5 linked regions of the Homo sapiens genome follow. The protein of the gene in region 1 purifies or fractionates together with the protein of each later gene. This does not show direct contact. Each region holds a gene or a part of one and is shown in the gene's direction. Other genes may lie near its edges.

Region 1 (4,062 bases):
CCTAGGCTCAAGCGATCCTCCCACCTCAGCCTCCTGATATCAGGGACCACAGGCATGTGCCACCATGCCTGGCTAATTTTTGTATTTTTTGTAGAGATGGGGTTTCACCATATTGCCCAGGCTGGTCTGGAACTCCGGAGCTCAAGCAATCTGCCTGCATTGGCCTCCCAAAGTGTTGGGATTAGAGGTGTGAGTCAGCCTACATCTCATTTTTTTTTTTTAAAAGATGGGGTCTCATCTAGGCTGGAGTGCAGTGGTGCAATCATAGCTCACTGTGAACTTACATCTTAAGTGGTAAATTGTATATGTGAATTCTATTTTGATTAAAAAATTAGATGGTAAGCGGTCTGTCCTATTATTAAAGACATTATTTCTGCAAAAATGACATATGCTTGTTTGAAAAAAATTCAAACAATACAAAAGCTTAAGGAAGAAAATGAAAACATTATCTATGACCACTATTAGCACTTTGGTTCAGACAGCAGGTTTGATGTGTTGAGAATTGAACTTGGGCAAGTTGTTGAACTTTTTTCCAAAATAAGGAGAAAAAACTCATACCTTAAATCGAAGATATGGGCAAAAGTGCAACAGATGCTAACTGCTGTAATCATTACCTGTATATGTGTATACATACCGAGGTGGATGTGTCTTATTGGCCATAAATGGGATTAGATCTTTCATGTGGTTCTGTGGCCTGACTTTTTGGGACTGGGCAAACTAATCTGCAACATATATTTTATATATATATATATAAAACGTGGCTGCTGTGTATTCATTGCTACTCTGTGCCAGGCACCATGCTAAAATGCTTTACGTAAATGATCTCATTGAATCTTTTCTACAGCTCGAAATCACAGTGGCTTACCCCTGTAATTCCAGTGCTTCGGGAGGCTAAGGCAGGAGGATCCCTTGAGGGGCTAGGAGTTCAAGATCAGCCTAGGCAACATAGTGAGACCCTCATCTCTACAAAAAAAAAAAAAAAAATTAGCCAGCTCAGGAGTTCAAGGTTATAATGAGTTATGATCATGCCACTGCATTCTGGCCTGGGTGATAGAGCAAGACCCTGTCCCTAAGAAAATTAAAAATAAGTAAATAAATAAATAAATATTGCCTGACTTTTTCTTTTCTTTTTTTTACTTTTGAGACAGGGTCTCACATTGTTGCCCAGGCCGAAGTGCAGTGGTATGAAGCACTGATCCATGCTACAACTTGGATGAACCTTGAAAACATGTTTTGTGTAAATCAGATTGTGTATGTGTGTCTTTGTGTGTGTGTGTTGTGGGAGGGAGCAAAGGTAAAGTTACTCACTGCAGCCTCAAACTCCTGGGCTCAAGCAGTCCTCCTGCCTTTGCCTCCTGAAGTGCTAGGATTATAGGCAGGAGCCACCACACCCAGCCCTTGCCTGACTTTTTCATGGACAGACTTTTTGTATAAAAACGTCATTCACAGGCTGGGCACAGTGGCTCGCACCTATAATCCCAGCACTTTGGGAGGTCGAGGCAGGCCGATCACTTGAGGTCAGGAGTTCGAGACCAGCCTGGCCGACACGGCGAAACCCTGACTCTACTAAAAATACAAAAAACAATTAGCCGGGCATGATGGCACATGCCTGTAGTTCCAGCTACCTGGGAGGCTGAGGCAGGAGAATTGCTTGAACTCAGGAGGCAGATGTTGCAGTCAGTGAGCTGAAATTGAGCCACTGTACTCCAGCCTGTGCAATAGAGTGAGACTCCATCTCAAAAACAAAACAAAACATCACTCACCCTTTAAAAACAACTGGCTACACAGTACTGCATTGTATGGGTTTATAATATTTTATCCTGTAGCCTCTCATTGGTGGCAGTTTCCATTGATTGATGGAGTGTCACACAGGTGGAGGTTTGCACAGCACTACTGCTATGTTAGAACATACAACTGGGCATCCACTAATTCCATACGTGCATTTTCATCTCCTACAGGGTGTGTGGCTGGAAATGCAGCTCCATGGCTTAAGCCCTTGCTTTAGGTGTCTGGCCAAGTAGATCATGGCCAAGCAGAGGGGAGTTCACTGTTTTCTGGGGCCAGGCAAGAACCGACACTGGCAGAGCCAAAGAGAGTCGGCATGTCCAAGAGTATTGGGCAAGGGGCTGCCAAAGAGGCAGGGTGAAATCTGCTGGAGAGTCACTGGCCTCCCTATTCCACAAGTAAGCGTGGCAGGGGTCAGTAGAGGAGAGAGAAGAGAGAGAGAGCAGATTGCAGGAGAGGCCTCAGGCAGCCTGAAGAGGAAAAGTGCCTCCCCTCCCTGGCCCTGCTCTGGTCTGGGTGTCCCCTCAGGCCCCAGGCCCTTCACAGGGAACCCCAGATAAGCAATTTGCCTTCCTTGGGTGAGGCAAGAGTTTGCCCTTTCGGGGAAGCAGGTTGATGATACTAGGGGCCTGGGGGTCAAGGGCTTGGCTCCTTTGGTCAACTCATTGCCCCTGAGGTCCACTCTGGGGTCACTAGACTTTCTTTCCCTGGAGGAAACCCCATGAAGGGCCCGGAGCAGGCTTGTATGTCCACCTGATTGTCAAAGCTGCCCTGGCATGGCAGGCTGTCTGTCTGTCGGCCCCTGTCACCTGTCCTCTAAGCCTCTCCACCTTCTGCCACAGGTGCCCTGAACTCTACCTGCCTCCTCCCTTCCTGCCACTGGGCCTCTGGCCCAAGTTGTTTCCTCTGCTAGGAAGGCCCCCTGATCTCAGCTCTTTTTCAGGGCTCTAGGCTGTCCTTTTTGAGTGTCCCTGGGTGCTCCAGTGTGACCTGACGCACAGTGGACTCCCCTGTCCCTATCCCCGGCCAGCTGCGTAGCCCCTCTCAGGGGCCATGCCCAGCTAACTTGGAAGTGGGGCTTTCTGGGTGTTTTCTTGACCTCATCCCTGGCTGACAGCCCCAAGGGTAAGACCCAGCACAGAGGGTTGCACGCTGCCAGGGGCTGGTGAAACACACGCCACCCACGGCCTGCCTCATCACTGCCTACATTCTCAGGCCCTGCGCAGCTCCTGGTGTGCACTGCTACCTCTGGCTGGGCCTGTGGGCCCTCCTGGGTCCTGGTCCCTAGGAGACATTCCCTTCTGGCCCAGTTGGCAGATTCAGCCTGAGGTACGCTTGGGATTAGCTCTAGACAACCCTTCTGAGGGCTTAGAGGAGCCAGGGTGGCCCTGCCTGCCGGGGGGTTGTCTTGGGTCCTAATCTCTACGAGGGCTCAGCCTCCTCATCTGTGAAATGGGTATGTTCAAGCCTCAATGCTTTGGGGACCATTTGACCCACGAGAAACAACTTTAAATTCCCTCCAATCCATTGTGTCAGTGCCCTCCGTCCGCTCTACTGTCCGCCCCCAGGGGAGAAGTTAGGCAGTGGGCATTTGAACACCAATGGGAACAGTGCCCGGAGTTCTAACCAAAAGCTGCCCCATAAGTGTGGGATGATTTGGGGACCGTCTTGGGGAACCACCACCATGTCTTGGAAACCAGTGTGTACGAGGACAGCTCAGGATATTATAGCTGGTTGGGCCTTATAGTCCCCTCCCATTATAGGGGGTAAATTGAGGCCTAGAGAGGGAAGGGGTTGTGCCCCAGACCCGCAAAGATGATCAGGGCAGTGCAGTGGCCTTCCAGCGGCCTGAGGGTCCCAGATGAGCTGGAACACACTTCCTTATGAGGCTGTTCAGTGGCTTGATGTCTATCCTTCAAGGTTGACCTCAGAGTCTACTTCCTCCTTCGCTGACACCCGCTCCAGTCCCCCTTCCTGAAGCCCACAGCAGCTGTTGAGCCTCTGGGGCTGCTTTCTGTATAGTGTGAGTTTTGTTTCTTTTTCTCAGCATCTCCCCCCAGCAGCCTGGCTTATTTCTGCCTCTCTTTAGGGCTCAGCACAGGCCAGGAGGAGGGTTGATTGCTTGTCACCTCTCAGGGTCTCAGCTGCAGTCAAGAGTGCCCCTCAATGGGCTGTGCGGCTCCTCCCACACCAGCAGCCCTCTGCCTGCCTGAGGCCCACACTGCAAGCATCCTAATTTGGGGTTCTGCTGGGCTGGAGGCAAGGCCTCTGGTGCAG
Region 2 (4,062 bases), about 55 Mb from region 1:
TTTGAGTTTGATATATTACTGTTAGAAGATTTAACTCAGAAACCAGGAAAGAAATCAAGGAACAAAAAATTAAATCAAGAAAGAAAAAGTACCATGACAAATTCATTATAGTCATTGTAGTTCTATTTTTATAAGACTGGGCTCTACTTTGCCATTTTAAGCTAAACTGATGCACAGTTAAGCATTATTAGTTGAAATATGCTGTGATCTCAATTCCTATTTAAATTGTAAGGTCTTCTAATAGATGGTGTTGTTGGAGTTCAGATACACATGAATTTCATTTTGCTAGAAATTTGCTCCTTTTAATGTTGGGGACTTAAAAGACACCCAAGGAAAAGAAGTCATCCAAAGATATAATAATGAGAACCGGAAAAGTATTTTGTTAAATTTGTATGTGTCATTAAGATAGGACCTTTATGATTTTGATGTTAAACAAATGTAAGATAAACAGCTTACAAAAACTGTGGCCATCTTGGATTGTGCTGTGAGACTTCCAAGCAGAGACAAAAAGACTTTCACCTGCCTCCAGCTGGACTTCAGAACTTCGTTTCCTTAGGGTTCTTGACAGTGTTTGTATGAAACAAACCCTGTTCTGTGCTGTGTACGATGAGTAAGCTTCCCAAGTTAAAATTATTGCTCCACACCACAGATTTCAGATTCCAAGTGGAACAGAAGTCCAAAGTTGCTGTTTATAAACTTCTAAGGGTCGATTGTACCTTTCAATGGTGTCCACCCTGTGTTGACATACAGCAAAACCGAAGGGCTCTTGAAACTTCTAACCACTTTCTGAATTACAGCGAAGAATATTCTTTGCATGGTATCAAAGTTCTACAATGTCTCAGTAATTTTACATATTGAAAAAAGTCATTGATTTCCATATTCAGTCCTCTGCGCTGTCTTCTCATTTCAAGTAGTCTCATGTTCCATGTATTATTACGTTATTTGAGGAATTAAAAAAAAAAAAAAAAGAACTGGGGAATCTCCAAGAGCTGGCGGGAATATTGGCTTTGAGAAAGGAACCTTAGAATTCAAACGTAATGTTTTACCTAAAAAGGAGTCCAGTTTCCAACACTTGGGCTGGGAACGACAGGCTATGGTTGCCCAGGATCTGAAGTACAGAGGAAATTGCTTGTCCTTCTGGTGGGAGAGTTTGTCTCTAGAGGATCAGGAGGATCAGGAGGGTCAGGAGAAGGGCAGGGTGTGGCCGGGAGGAAGGGGCATGGTTAGAGATTTCTTTTCTTGATCATTTTCATCCCAGTTCAGCACTGAGTTCAGATTTCCCTTCCTTCCTTCCTTCCTTCCATCTGTCCTTCCTTCCTCCTTTCCTCCCTCTCTCCCTCCCTCCTCCCCCTGTCCCTCTCCTTCCTCCTTCCTCCCTCTCCCTCTCTGTCTCTCCCCCCTACCTTCCTTCCTTCCTTCCTCCCTCGCTCCCTCCCTCCTTTTTTCTTTTCTTTTCTTTCTCTCTGTCTCTCTCCCTTTCTCTTTCTCTCTCCTTCTCTCTCTCTCCCTCCTTTCCCTTCCCTTCCCTTCCCTTTCCCTTCCCTTCCCTTCCTTTCCCTTTCCCTTTCCCTTTCCTGACAGAGTCTTGCTCTTGTCACCCAGGCTGGAGTGCAATGGCGCGATCTCAGCTCACTGCAACCTCCACCTCCCAGGTTCAAGCGATTCTCCCTCCTCAGCCTCCCGAGTAGCTGGGATTACCTGCCATCATGCCTGGCTAATTTTTGTATTGTTGTAAAGACAAGGTTTCACCGTGTTGGCCAGGCTGGTCTCTTAACTCCTGACCTCACGTGATCTGCCCACCTCGGCCTCCCAAAGTGCTGGGATTATAGGCGTGAGACACCACTGCCGATCCTCTCTCTTTCTTTCTCTCTCTCTTTCTCTTTCTTTGTTTTCTCTCTCTCTCTTCTTTCCCTCCCCTCCCCTTCCCTTCCCTTCTCTGCTGTGTTTCCATTCTAGAAGTTCTTTCCTTCATCCCCTCGTTGCTCCTGCAGAGCATTTACTCTGACAGTGCCCCCCACCCAAGGCTCGTGGCTGCCTGGCTGTTGGATGACAGTAATGCATGCACTGCACGTCTCCCCCAGAGGAGTAATGCCGGGGACCATTTGTAGATGGATGGGAAACTGAAGCAAAGCGTGCTTCAATTTAGATTCCCCAAACTGCCAGAGCCCCAATAAAACTAGACAACTGTTGTTACCTTTAACAGAGGGTTTGCTTCTATTTTCATGTGTAACACACAAGCCCATGGCCTTGACTGGGCTTGGAGGAGGATTGTTAGTGTTTAGGTATTGTAGTCTCTGAGGCAGATGCACGTGCGTCTGCTCAAGTTTAACATCAGCAGCCGCTCTCTCATATTCTGTGTCTGTCTTTGCTGTCGTAGAATCCCAGTGTTCCAATGCAGAAGTTGCAGGATATCCAGAGAGCAATGGAGCTGCTATCCGCATGCCAGGGCCCAGCCAGGAACATTGATGAGGCTGCAAAGCACAGATACCAGTTTTGGGACACACAACCGGTACCAAAACTAGGTAAGTTTTTCTGCTTTTCTCTTTTTTTCCCCACAAACAAAGCTGGATGAACAACAACAACAACAACAACAACAACAACAAAACACAAAGAGTGTTAACTTCACATGTATCATTTATTTCATACCACAGATTGGAAATCTATGCAAGACTAATATTTTTCTTCTGAAAATATAAATATTAGATAGTGACATTGGCTTTTGATAACCATTATTTTAGTCCAATTTCTATCCCAATAAAAACATCCAATTTCCCCACACTTGAAACATTACTAGTATTATTATTATTTTTGAGATAGGGTCTCACTCTATCACCCAGGCTGGAGTGCAGTGGCATGATCATAGCTCACTGCAGCCTCCACCTCCTGGGCTCAAGTGATCCATCCTCCCATGTCAGCCTCCCATGTATCTGGGACCACAAGTGCACACCACCACACCTGGCTAATTTTTGTATTTTTTTGTAAAGACGCTGTTTCAGTATGTTGCTTGGGCTGGTCTCGAACTCCTGGGCTCAAGTGATCCACCTGCCTTGGCCTCCCAAAGTGCTGGGTTACAGGTGTGAGCCACCGCACCTAGCCCATTAGAGTATTAAAAATGTATATAAGGTTCTGTGATGGAAGGACCAGGCCCTGAAGGTCCCTCATGGAGCAGGTGTCTGTTGAGTGTCTGTTATTAAATGCCAGGCATAGTCCAGGGCACACACCTGGAAACAGTGGTGGAAAAGTAGGACAAAAGGTGGCCAGGCTGGGGAGGAGCGGCCACACTGAGGTAGAGAAAGGCTTTAGTTAAGCAACAGATGCTGGGAGAAAGTGACGTGTGATGCGTAAGCTTCTGTCGGGAATTCCAAGGGGCCCGTCCCTTGAGGACCAGAGGGCCTCAAGCCTAAGGAAGGCACCAGGAAGGCCCTGAGCTGAGGCCTGCCCCGGTCATCATGGCCAGAGCACTGGGAGCAGGGGGCAGGGAGGGTGTGGAGAGGGGCCGAGGCAGGCAGCAGCCATGGGGAAGAGCCTGGGTTTTAGTCCTACCATGTTGGGAAGCTCTGCAGAGAAGGACTTGGAAAACTCTTCTTGGTGGAAATCACTAGAAATTGTGATGGCCTGAACTACGCTGCTAGCAGTTTAGATGGGGAGAAGTAACCAGCCTTGAAATTATTTTTAGGTTTTGCTGGGAGGGGCAGAGGTCACCGCAGCCCTTTCCTCTCCCAGTTTGTGGAAATGCAGTAAAAAGAACACACCTCCCAAGGCTGTTGAATGAAACCTACATTGCTTATGACAGTGTGTAAGATAAGGCTGCATTGTAGGCCTTGAGACTCGGAATCACTGTTGTTTTGTAATGTCATCTTTGTCACTGGATGACAAAGGATTTCTCCTTTCATTTAATTGGCAAAATAGGCCAGCTGTGGTGGCTCACACCTACAATCCCAGCACTTTGGGAGGCTGAGGTGGGAGGATCACTTGAACCCAGGAGTTTGAGATCAGCTTGGGCAACATAATGAGACTCCGTCTCTACAAAAAAAATTTACAATTAGCCGGGCACTGTGTTGT
Region 3 (4,062 bases), on another chromosome or scaffold:
GAGGATTATGGCAGACAGGCAAAAAAAAAAAAAACTTTTAAAGCAACTATCTAAGTCCTTACCAAGTTTCTTTAGCACTTTTATTCTAAAGTTATCAAGGTGGAAATTGGGGCCTCTGCCCCACATGTATCTGCTTCATTGGGTTGTATCTTCATACCTGATTAACGGCATATTCTAGGCAAAAGCAAGACCCTAGGCATGCTATGTTTGGCTCTGAATATGTAGGCCTCCCAGGTTTATTAGCTGAACTGGTACATGACCTTGACAGCTTATTTTCCCTAGACTAGAAGCATTCCTAAGGAACCCTGAGCTCTAGGCTATTTGGCCTTCTTAGAATGGGACACTTCCCAAATTGAAGGCAGCCCTAGGTTGCAGAGAGGAGAGAGGAGGGAGAAAGGGAGAGAGGGAGAAAGCAAGTTCCCTTCATCCTCAGTAAATAGAATGAAGAAGGGAAGGACACAGTGAGTCAAGTCTTATCTCAATACCTACTGGGTAAATTGCCTCTCATTCTGAGAAAGTTATAGAAAATGCATCAGGTTATCCTTAACTCACACCTAACAGTCTTGTGAGAAAATCTGTTCAAATAGTTAAAGTAGGAAGAATACTACTAACTAGACCCTTATACGATATGTATTATATGTAGATATGTAGAATGACTTTGTATTGTCTATTAACCTCATTTCTTAAAAAGTGTCAATATTTTTATTAGTGATCCAATAGAGATTATGTTGCATATAAACCCATTTTGTAAATATGAATAAAACCAGACAAGGAGCTCTTGCCTTCCCTTTCTGAAGAGGAGCAGAGATTCCTCAGCTAGGAGTGATGGAGAAGGTGTGGCTCTTTGGCAAGCTGACCAGAGGCCAGTGAAAGATTATTTATTTATTTGGCTGACTATGATACCCTCACTTGTAGCCACACCCCCTGGGTTTGCATTTTTTAAAAACCCCAACAGTGAAATAGTTCTTTTTTCTTTTTCTTTCTTTCTTTTTTTTTTTTTTTGAGACAGAGTCTCTCGCTCTGTCACCATGGCTGGAGTGCAGTGGTGTGATCTTGGCTCACTGCAATTTCCGTTTCCTGGGTTCAAGTTATTCTCCTGCCTCAGCCTCCTGAGTAACTAGGATTAGAGGTGTGTGCCACTACACCTGGCTGATTTTTGTATTTTTAGTAGAGATGGGGTTTCGCCATGTTGGCCAGGCTGGTCTCAAACTCCTGACCTCAGGCGATCTGCCCACTTTGGTCTCCTAGAGTGCTGGGATTACAGGCATAAGCCACCGTACCTGGCCTGAAATAGTTCTTTTTTTCTTATTTTGTAAATATAGATATTATCTTTAGTTTAGAAAATGATGACTAGGTACCATAATACCTATATAGTAATAACCACATTATGTGTCATTTAGTTCCACAAAAATTTAATGTAAAATTCTGCGTTAAGAGCTGTAAGATGCAGTCCCTGTCCTGATCACCCCTAAAATGCTACAGCTTATCTCGTATGTACCTTTCTGTTATGTTTTCTGGTTGTGCATGATTTTTTAAGAAATATCATTACCTTTAATAAGGACCTTTGCTTAGCTGCCAGACTTGTCAACAAAGAAATTTCAGATATCTATAGGCTGTAATTATTGTTAGTGGCTACTGATGCAATATGTAAAGTAGAGGTCTGAAGAAACTAGTTTTGCAACTGGCAGTTTAGGAGATTGGAAGGAATTCCTGAACAGGACATCTGTCAATATTTGGAATGATACTCTTCTATTTAAAAAGAAAAAGTTTCCTGAGAAGTAAATGTAGCACACATACCTAGAGAGTAAAATGTATAAGATGAATTTAAAGAACAACAACAAAAGAAATAACTGTGGATGCATTATCTAGGTTAAGAAATAGAACATACCCGTATTTTGAAACTTAACTTTTTCAGTACTGGTTAGGTGACTCAACTGGTATTTTTCTTCATTCATCACATCTGTGTTTCTTTTCTTTCTGGCCAAATGCAATGTAACATAAATTTCAACTCAGTGAACAAAAGTCATTTGTTATAGAAGTAATATATAGCTGTGAAACACTAGTATTGCACTGTTTCATAACCATAAAAATTCTGGTTACACATATGTAGGATAATTCTGGTTTTATATATATGTATGTGAGTATATACATTTGATATTTACTTTACTCCCTAGCAGAGCTGGTATGTTGCTTGATTTTGGTTGTGCTTCTGCTTAGAATTTTAAAAATTAGAAAGAAGGGCAATAAAGCATCATAATTCCATGCACTGATTTAATGTTATTGGATTCATTTATACCTAAAGAAAATCCTTAGACTACATGATAAAGGTTTACTGGTGGAAAAAAAAAAGATATCCTTTTATGAAGTTAAGATTATACATTAAATTTAATGGAACTCTCTAGTAGAGCTCAATAAAAGGAGATACTTTGCTCTATTTTCAATTAGATATTTGAGTTATTTTTGCTTTATGTGTGCATATTTTGTTTCTCTGACAAAACTGAAAACTTTTAAAGATGCTTTCTCTCTGAAATCGCTAACAATGGGGTGATCACTAATAGGAATTCAGTAAATAGCCATTGAATTGCTACAGAACTACCTCTTACCAAATGCTCTTAACATATGCATATATGTCTATACACTTGGATCCCATTTCTTGGCCAGAAAAGTCTACATATAAATGTAAATTTAATGGTCCATATGCCAAGAAACTAATAACTGTTTTTATTTCTGAGAATGCAGCTAAATATCTACTTACCTACTTTAAATAATCCAGTGAAGAATACCATCCTGTTTGAAAATATTTGTCTTAATTGCTAATCCAGTTACTATGTTTTTAAAAATTTGCCTTTAAAAAAGTAAAGAAAGCTTCAGAATTCATTTTGAATGATATATTTTGGTATATTTCCTATTTTTCTCATAGACTTTGACCACTGAACTTCGGTCTAAGGGTAGTGAAAGGGGAGGTGAAACAGAAAGAATAATGGTTGAGTATGGGAGGGTTATGATTATGAATGGAGATTACAAACATAAATACATCCTGTCATGAGAATATAGGTGTTGTTGATGCGAACAGTCAAACTCTGTAAAATATTTTAAGAGATTTATTCTGAGCCAAATATGAGTGACCATGGCCTGTGACACAGCCCTCAGGTCCTGAGAACATGTGCCCAAGGTGGCTGGGGTACAACTTGGTTTTACATATTTTAGGAAGGCATGAAACATCAATCAAATACATTTAAGAAATACATTGGTTTGGTTCAGAAAGGAGGGACAACTTAAAGCGGGGGTGCTTCCAGGGTATAGGTAAATTTAAACTTTCTGGTTGACATTTGGTTGAGTTTGTCTAAAGACCTGGGATCCATAGAAAGGAATGTTCAGGTTAAAGATAAAGGATTGTGGAGACCAAGTTTTTTTGTGCAGAGGAATCTCTCAGCAGACTTCAGAGAGAGCAGGTTGTAAAATGTTTCTTATCAGACCTAGAAGGGTGCTTGGCTCTTAGTTGATTATCTCCTGGATCTGGAAAGAAAGGAAGGAAAACAAAGCGGGAAGGGGAGGCTCTGTAGAATGTGGATTTTTCCCACAAGAAACTTCGCAGGGCAATTTCAGGGTATGGCAAGGAAATGTATTTAGGAATTAAATATTTTCTTCTTGTCTTAGAATGTTATGCCAGAGTCAGATTGAAAAGTAAGTCACAATATACAGGGTTAAATAAAACCCATCTGATGAGAATTTATGGTTTGTAGGGCATGACTCCCCAGACCCCTTAGGTGGGAATTTGGGCAAGATTAAAAAATCAGAGCTTAGTCCTCAGTGTGGTTAACCAATTTGTTTCAAGCCCCATTGCTTGGCATTTCTCAATAAAGTCTGAAATTTTTAGTTTAAGTTGCTTCCACTAGCTAAGAGATTTTGAGGCAACTTGATATTTACATTTGAGTGATAACTTAGAAAGTGTCTAAAATCCTTGGTGTTTTTTTCATAACCACTTCACACTTTGTAATTGGTAACATTTTATTTGTAAAACTTTTCCCCGCTTCCATTTTCCGTAGACTTGAATTTTCTATG
Region 4 (4,518 bases), on another chromosome or scaffold:
TTTCGAAGTTAAAAAGATCATACGGATATCTTCACTTAGGAATGAAATGTTACAATCTTTGAGCCGGCATGAACTCTGATTTTGTTGATACTGGGTATACTGTCAATGCTGATTTTGATATTTGGTAAGGACTGATTTATTTACATCTTGTGTGTGCCTCAATTTCCCTAATATGGTCTGAGCCTGTAGATAACACCTTACTTTATTTATAGTTGGGTCAATTCTTCAAGATGTTTAACGCTCTCCATGTTTATTTCTTGTGGTTGACTATACTTTCCATGGTAGGAAGTCCTGAACTTCTGCTACTACTGTAGGTCTTATCTTTAGGCTTGTGGATGCTTAATAAGAACACTGAGATGATCTAAGAGTGCAGGACATTTAATTAAAAAAAAATTTTTTTTAAGAGACAGAGTTTTGCTCTGTTGCCCAGGTTGGGGTGCAGTGGTGAGATGGCAGCTCACTGCAGCCTCAAACTCCTGGGCTCAAGCAATTCTCCCAGATTCTCCCACCTCAGCTTCCTAGGTAGCTGAGACCACAGACGAGCCACCGGCCCAGCTAATTTTTGCATTTCTTGTAAAGAAGGGGTCTTACTGTGTTGCCTCGTCTCCATGAGGCTGGTCTCGAACTCCTGGACTCAATCGATCCTCCCACCTCAGCCTCCCACAGTGCTGGGATTACAAATCTGAGCCACCACACCTACCAGCAGAAACTTTTTTTCAAGAGGAGACTTTGGATTTCAAGGTGACCTCCCCCACCCCGCCCACAGTAATATCTGTGACCCAGTGCACAACACAAGTGCCTATGACTGAATAAAATATTTCACTAAATATTTATTTCACTATTCGAGATGTGCCTGGTATCTCTATTTCTTTCTTTCTTTTTTTTCTTTTTTTGGAGACAGAGGAGTGATCTCGGCTCACTGCAACCTCCGCCTCGCAGGTTCAAGCGATTTTCCTGCCTCAGCCTCCTGAGTAGCTGGAATTAGAGGCGCTCGCCACGACGCCCAGCTAATTTTTGTATTTTTAGTAGAGACGGGGTTTCGCCATGTTGTCCAGGCTGGTCTTGAACTCCTGACCTCAGGTGATCCGCCCGCCTCGGCCACCCAAAGTGCTGGGATTACAGACGTGAGCCACTGTGCCTGGCCATCTAACTCTATTTCACAGAAAACTGGAACCACCACACGCACCTGTACCCCTTCCAAGTAGAAACCAGCTAATTTGGTTTTACGAATCACTAAAGGCCGACTGAAAACGCTCTTCTAGCAGTCTTCGCTGCTACTCCATCTATCACAGCCCATCCGAAAAGCGGCGGTAGCAGCTGGGAAGGCCGCGGCCGGAGGCTGTCACAGAGCAGCACTCGCGCTTCGGCCCGCAAGATGGAGCGTTTCCCTCCAGGGAAGCAGCGCCGCACCTATCCACAGCCCCCACTCGGTGGATGATGCAGGACTCGGCCCATTTCCCTGCCCTCCAGCTTTCTCAACGTCAGCCCCGCCCCCTTATCTTTCCTCGGCGAGTTTAGTTTCGCCCCGCCAAGTGGGCAGAGCGCCGAACGATCGATGCTTTCTTCCGCGCCCCGAGAGCCGCCATTTTTGAGAGCGGGGGAGGAGAGACAAGCAGGGGCGGCAGAGGCTCAACGGGATGCTGACTGGGTTTTGCTTTTCGTCCCAGCCTTGTGGGGCCGGGACGGAAGAACCCATCAAAGCCCTTCCTCCCGCCGCCTCTCCGGAATGAGGTCTCAGCACCCGCGCGGGACAGCACCCTTCCTCCTGCGACAGTGAGTGGCGACCCGTGGCGCGACTGCCGGGCGCCCGCGCGCGCCCCCGCGCGCTCCTTCGCTGTCAGTTACCCCGCGCGCCTCCGCCCCTCTCCCGCCGGCCCCGCGCTCGGCGCAGACTCGTTTGTTTGTTTCTGCAGGAGCCCAAGAAGAGGCCGAAACCGAGACCATGCCAGGGAAGCTGAAGGTGAAAATCGTGGCCGGGCGCCATTTGCCAGTGATGGACCGTGCTAGTGACCTGACTGATGCCTTCGTGGAGGTTGGTGCAGGGTCCTGCCCCTCAAAACACAGGGAGCGCCAAGCCCTGTGAAGGATCTACCCACCTCGCCCCCAGCCCCTCAGCCTATTCCCCCCTCGACTGCCCTCCCTTCGGCCGTGGTTGTCCAGCTCTCCCACGAGGGATGACCGCCGAGACCTCAGTGTGTGCGATGGGTGCACGGCTTGCAGGCGTCCGCGGCACAGTCCGCTGCGCGGGGAGGCTTGTACTGTTGTGCATGCGGGGGTGACCCTGATGTCAGGACTCATTAACAGGCCACCTGCCACTCAGGAGATCCCAAGGCGTGGCCGCGCAGCCACCGACACACTCACACACATACACACACACACACACAAATGCCGGAATGACTCTGATGTCAGGACTCATTAACAGGCCACCTGCCACTCAGGAGATCCCAAGGTGTGGCCCCGCAGCCACTGAAACACACACACACACAGGCACACACACACCCTTGGAAGGGGTGGCCAGAGTGCTGGACATCATGTTTAAGAAGGTGCATGAAGCCCTTTATGGGCACTTGGAGTCCCACAGTGCGAGGAAATCCACTCTCATGCCTAACATTTTGTGAATCTGCCATGCACGTTCTAAAACACAACTGCAACACTTCCTGCTCTTGTATAGGCTGGTAGGTCTGATGAGGTGTTTCAGGGTAATTTAGCGCCTTGAGGTAGGAAGTCATTTAATTGCCATGGACTTAAATTGCAAAATTGCTTTTTAAGTCTAATGATTAGTTTAAAAGTCATGCAAATTAGTAAAGGCCTACGGCCGGAAGGTAATAACCCAGAGTCTGAAAGAAGCCAAGTAAAGATTGTAATAAAAATTGGCGTGATGAGCCAGAGCATTAGAGCAGCAATCATTTGGGCTATTAGTGCTTAGAATTGATGGATAGATATATCATAATATATAGCTCGATTTCATCTCAATATTCCTGATGTTTCCTAAATGTTCTCTAACCGAATAATTACAGTTCACTGCCTCCCCTGCCCATTGTCATGGTGATTCTTAATCACTTCATTTGAGAAAGTTCTTGAGTGCTCTTGTGCCAGATGTTAGGTGATAGGAATCCACAAATAACTAAAACATAGTGTTTGCTTTCCGGTAGTTCAGACATTGACCCACACAGCCTATTTAATAACTAATAGGTAACGTGTTGAATTTAATAATTGCCAGATCTGTACTAAGTACTTTTAAATTCTTAGTTTTCACAACAGTCCTGCTATAGGAGTATTGTTATTGTCCCATGTTACAGTGGATGTAACTGAGGCCCAGGAAGGGTAAATAATTTGCTTAAGGTTACATAGCTTGCAAACCTCCACAGCCTGACAGTTTGTTCTCTTAACCACTCTGCTAATACGGCCTCACCAAAGTGATGAGTATTGTATTAGAATATGGAAAGAATTCTGTCTCTGAAGGTTGAGAAAGGCTTCTTGTGAAAGTGACATTTGAAGTGGGCCTTGAAGGACACCCAGGATTTTACCAGGCAAAGGGAACATCAAAGGCAAAGGCATAGACTGGGATATATAGTATGTTCAGGAAACTGCCTTAGTTTAGTACGTGTCTGGAGGAAAGGGTATGAGATATGTGGGTAGTGGAGCTTGTTAGGGATGAGGCTGGAAAGCCCCATTTTCTATAAAACCTCATTTTCTGTAATATTTATAAGGAGCGACAAGGAAGCTGAATGCAGGTCACTGCAGCCTCCAACTCCTGGCCTCAAGCCATCCTCCTGCCTCTCCCGCTTCGGCCTCCCAAAGTGCTGGGATTATGGGCCTGAGCCACCACGCCTGGCCAGGGGAGTTTTTTAAGCAGAAATAAAATAAGATCATGTTTGTATTAGTTTGTTTCTTTATAGGATGGCCTGAATGGGGATGCTATTGATGGACTAGACAGATGGGAAGTGTGGCAGGGAGATCAGTTAAGAAGGTGGTAAAATTATCCAGGTAATATGTGGGAATGGGAATAGGAATGGATTTGAACAGAAAGATTTGTGGGACATTTCTTAGGTTAAAATAGTCAGGCCTTGATAACTAGGTGGATTTTGCTGGTGAGGAAGGGGGCTGATTCAGGGGTTACTTATTACTTCCTTCTTTGAACAAATTGAGTGTCTGCCGTTTGCCAGGCTCTGGGCTAGTTACTGGTCTAGCCGATGTATATACATGGTGAATAAGACAGACTTGGTTCCTTCTCTTAATTCAGCTTATATTTTAGTGGGAGAGACAGATGTTTAAAAGGTAAATAAATTATTAAATATATAGTTACAAGTTGGGATGGGTGCCATGAAAGGGAACAATAGAAAGAGAACAACAGGGAACACCTACTTTAGGTTGAGTAATCAGGGGAGGCCCCTGAGAAAAGTGTTTGTCAAAACCAAGATCTGCTGGATGAGAAGGAGCCTGCTGCTGAGGGAGCATATTTGTGTGTGTAGGGGAGTGGGTGGACAGAAGGTAACCCGGAGATCTCATGTAGAGATT
Region 5 (4,062 bases), on another chromosome or scaffold:
TTTACAAGTTTTTGTATGGTATATATGCTTTCAATTTTCTTGGATGTATACCTAGATGTGTAATTGCTGGGTTATATGGTAATTCTGTTTACTTTCTGAGGAACTGCTTGACTGTTTTCCATAGCTGCTGCACTGTTTTACATTCCTTCTAGCAATGTAGGGTTCCATTTTCTAGGGTAACCCTTCTACATTGCTAGAAGGGTTACATTCCTTCTAGCAATGTAGGGTTATAGCAATGTAGCAATGAGGGTTCCATTTTCTCCACATCCTTGCCAACACTTGTTAATGTTTGTCTTTTTGATGATAGCCATCCTAGTGGCTGTGAAGTGATATCGCATTGTGATTTTCATTTGTATTTCATCTTATCATGTTTTTATTGGCCATTTGTATATAATTTTCTCATTTAATGTTTTAAATGATGCTGTAAGGTAGGTTTATTCCTATTTTACTGCCAGGAAACTAAAGTGCAAAGTTGTTTAATCATTTGCTTGTTTTTTTAACCTTACAGTTAATAAGAGGCAAGGTCTGAGTGTAAACTCAGGTCTTCTGACTCTACTTCCTGCACTCAATGAGGCATACAGAAATTAAATTGTGTTTGTGAATGTCTGGTTGATTAGTGACAAAGTGAGGGAAAAATAAAAAAAATCAAACCAAACAATAACAAACCATAAGGTGTTGTGGCAACACTGCCACATATTCATCAGATTTTATTACGCATTTTCAAATAAATTCCTTTTCTTCTGTCATAATAAGGTAGGTCTGCTTTCCACATTTCCAATGGGGAAACAGAGTCAGAGTGATTCAACCTAGTAACAGCTTCTTAATAGCATAGCCGATCCTAGAACCCACTGTTTCAGAATTTGAATAGTATGTATGTGTATATATATAGAGAGAGTAAAAGCTGAAAATCTCCCTTCACTTTTTGTCTTTTTCCCCTTCTTCACTCCTAAGACCACTTCCATCTTGGAGAAACTGCTGTTGACAGTTTGAGGTTTATATTTCCAAACCTGTATCTTTGCATTTATGTGTGTATTTATCTATAAATACACATTTCCATATTTTACCATACATACAGACATGTTTCTTTTCATAATGTTTTTTCTTTTACAAATGGGATTATACTACACATATTCCTTTGTTTTTCACTTAAATATGTTAAACTTTTCCATCTGTAATTACAAAGGATAAATCTAATATTATGTTTTCATTTAAGTTTGCTATCCATGCCTGGCTTCGGTGTCAAGATGAAGTCAGGATTAAGAATGATTAGGAAACTTTTCACTTTTTTCTGTGCTCTGGAACAGTTTAAAATATCTGCCCTTTAAACGTTTACTAGAAATCATCTGACAACTGTGGGGGCAGAGAGAGATCTGAGATGACCTTTCTAATTTTTTTTTTTCTTTTGAGACAGGGTCTCACTCTGTGGCCCAGGCTGAAGTGCAGTGGTGTGATCACACCTCACTGCAACCTCAACTGCCTGGGCTCAAGTCATTCACCCACCTCAGCCTCCCAGGTGGCTGAGAGTACAGGCATGTGCCACCATGCCCAGCTAATTTTTGCATTTTTTGTAGAGATGAAGTTTCTCAATGTTGCCAAGGCTGGTCTCAAACTCCTGAGCTCAAGCAATCTGCCTACGTTGGCCTTCTTAACATGAGCCATTGCACCTGGCCCGTTTTCTTATTTGTCAAATGACAATAACTCCTACCTCATAAGAGTCTTGAAATATTAAATGATATGTGAGCTAATATATGAAAAGGCTCAGTAGTTGCATCTAACAAAAATGAAAAAAATGTAATGAACTGTAACATGCTATACAAATGTAAATTTGTTACTACAGTTATTATAATTATGTTTTAACCTAATAGGAACAAATTTTTAAGTAGATAGGATGGTGGAGCTAGGGACAGTTTCCACTAATAAATCACAAGTATCTATAAAAATTCACAGGCCATTTGGGATTTGATTCTGGTAGACAATGGTATCTAAATACACTCTTTAAGAAGGATGGTAGGTAAAATCATTGACTAAACAGATCTGGATGAATCTTGTGTTGTCACTTGTTAGCCTTGTGACTGTGGACAAGTTAATTTCTTAGTAACATGAGATAACACTTATAGGGCAGTTATGAAGAAAGACATTAGTTTCTAGCATGTAATAGATGTTCAAAATAGTCAATTTTTTTTTTCTTTGCATGTAGTGAATACCCAACAGTGACAAACCTGAGATGTTGAGTTCTATTAATTTAAGGCTGCTTGGTGAGGTGGAAAGAACATTAAGCCCTAAGTCAGAAGTTTTGTTCTGTCCTATGTTTATTAGCCATTGGCTGTGGATGAGTCGCCTAAGTGCTTAGATCCTTCTGTTTTCCTTACCTATAAAAAAGCTAGAGAACTAAGGCTGGGTGCGGTGGCTCACACCTGTAATCCCAGCACTTTGAGAGGCTGAGGCAGGTGGATCACGAGGTCAGGAGTTCAAGACCAGCCTGGCCAAGATGGTGAAACCCCGTCTCTACTAAAAATACAAAAATTAGTCGGGTGTCGTGGGGGCACCTGTAATCCCAGCTACTCAGGAGGCTGAGGCAGAGAATTGCTTGAACCCGGGAGGTGGAGGTTGCAGTGAGCCGAGATCGCGCCACTGCACTCCAGCCTGGGCGACAGAGTGAGACTCTGTCTCAAAAACAAACAAACAAAAAGCTAGAGAACTAACACTAGGCACTTTACAACCTTATCTCATTTAATCTTTCCAATAATCCTATCAGATAGAGATGATTTCCATTTCCCTTTCTAATAGATAAAGAAACAAAGGTGCAGGAATTGGATTTTCCAAGGTCTACTTGGTGGACTCCCCCAGTCCTGGGAATATTCTTTGGCTCATTACAAGTATTCACTCCTGGGATGATAGGGCATGCCCCTATGTACAGGGAATACCAAGGGGGGAACCTACTATAAACTGAAATACTAAGTGTATGAATGAACTAAGCCAGTGTTGGATGAGACTACTTATTTATTAATGACTTCCATTAATAAAATACAAATAGAGGATTGTTAATGTGTCCCAATGCCAGTGCTTAAGAGTAGTAATTTAAGATGATACTTCATTTTCCCATAATCACCTTATCTAAATAATTTATTACCTACTCCTAATTTCATTTTCAGTTTGACCAGGTAAAGCACAGAAGTAAATTGTAAGTTAGTGGTCAGAGCTGGTTTGATAGTGGTGTGTGTGTGTGTGCATGCATGCACGTGCGTGTGCATGTGTGTGTGAGAGCTGAGAAGTACAGTTCTTCAGCAGCTTGGCATATGCAGAAACTGCACATTCTTGGAAAGAAGTAATCTGCGTTATAATTTAATTGCCTTCTAGTAGATTTGCAGAATCATTTAGAAAATGAACCTGCCTTTGTCAATTGGTTTGTAAAGACCTATTGATTATATTCTTGAAAGATAGTAATATTGTCTTTCCTTTAGTGGGTATTGCCAGAGCTTTTGCTTATGAGTTTCATTTTATTTGATCAGGTTCAGTGATATTGATTTGGTATCCTTGCATGCTTTGTGCTAGGGATGTATGAAACAAAATGCTTTTGAGAGGTCATGAATTGTGATTCAGTAATAGTTTAGAAAGTTTAGGAATTCTATCTATTGGGGCTTCAGTTAGCATGTTTTTGTAGTAGAAGTGGGAATTACTGAGTTTAGGTTAGATAATTTTTATCAGAAAAGTCTTGAATTGCACTGTGTAAATTCTCACTGACGTTGCATCTTTTCTGCAGAATACAAAATACTTTGGAGCTATATATAAGAATTAGAAAACATGGTTCTGTTTTCAAGGAGTTTATAATCTGATTAGGGAGGCAATGAAGGAAGAAACTGAGTAAAAGAATAAAGAGCTCTTAAAGCTTGTGTCTTGTCTTTGTAAAATCAATTTTGCCACATTGGGCTTTGGTAAGGTGTCATAGGTCTCTCCTGAGGGACAATATGAGAAACATCTAACCCTTTGAAGACTGGTGGTTATGTGTCTCCTATATTTTGATCATTCTATGGGGTTCTTTTTGCTATACGAAATTACTGTTTG

The links.
Region 2: the proteins of AIFM2 (region 1) and NMT2 purify together in Homo sapiens (affinity purification with mass spectrometry; one large-scale study listed by BioGRID and IntAct). This does not show direct contact.
Region 3: the proteins of AIFM2 (region 1) and ECHDC1 purify together in Homo sapiens (affinity purification with mass spectrometry; one large-scale study listed by BioGRID and IntAct). This does not show direct contact.
Region 4: the proteins of AIFM2 (region 1) and C2CD5 purify together in Homo sapiens (affinity purification with mass spectrometry; one large-scale study listed by BioGRID and IntAct). This does not show direct contact.
Region 5: the proteins of AIFM2 (region 1) and SESTD1 purify together in Homo sapiens (affinity purification with mass spectrometry; one large-scale study listed by BioGRID and IntAct). This does not show direct contact.

The regions. Positions count from the first base shown.
Region 1 is NC_000010.11:70,126,049-70,130,110, reverse strand, and holds part of AIFM2 (ferroptosis suppressor protein 1), read left to right. Parts: intron 1-4,062. UniProt on the Homo sapiens protein: A NAD(P)H-dependent oxidoreductase that acts as a key inhibitor of ferroptosis.
Region 2 is NC_000010.11:15,133,734-15,137,795, reverse strand, and holds part of NMT2 (glycylpeptide N-tetradecanoyltransferase 2), read left to right. Parts: exon of another isoform or gene 1-2,377; coding exon 2,378-2,522; intron 2,523-4,062.
Region 3 is NC_000006.12:127,336,715-127,340,776, reverse strand, and holds part of ECHDC1 (ethylmalonyl-CoA decarboxylase), read left to right. Parts: intron 1-1,888; exon of another isoform or gene 1,889-1,977; intron 1,978-4,062. UniProt on the Homo sapiens protein: Decarboxylates ethylmalonyl-CoA, a potentially toxic metabolite, to form butyryl-CoA, suggesting it might be involved in metabolite proofreading. Acts preferentially on (S)-ethylmalonyl-CoA but also has some activity on the (R)-isomer.
Region 4 is NC_000012.12:22,541,575-22,546,092, reverse strand, and holds the start of C2CD5 (C2 domain-containing protein 5), read left to right. Parts: upstream 1-1,550; 5' UTR 1,551-1,773; intron 1,774-1,895; exon of another isoform or gene 1,896-1,913; 5' UTR 1,914-1,942; coding exon 1,943-2,032; intron 2,033-4,518. UniProt on the Homo sapiens protein: Required for insulin-stimulated glucose transport and glucose transporter SLC2A4/GLUT4 translocation from intracellular glucose storage vesicle (GSV) to the plasma membrane (PM) in adipocytes.
Region 5 is NC_000002.12:179,257,858-179,261,919, reverse strand, and holds part of SESTD1 (SEC14 domain and spectrin repeat-containing protein 1), read left to right. Parts: intron 1-4,062. UniProt on the Homo sapiens protein: May act as the primary docking protein directing membrane turnover and assembly of the transient receptor potential channels TRPC4 and TRPC5.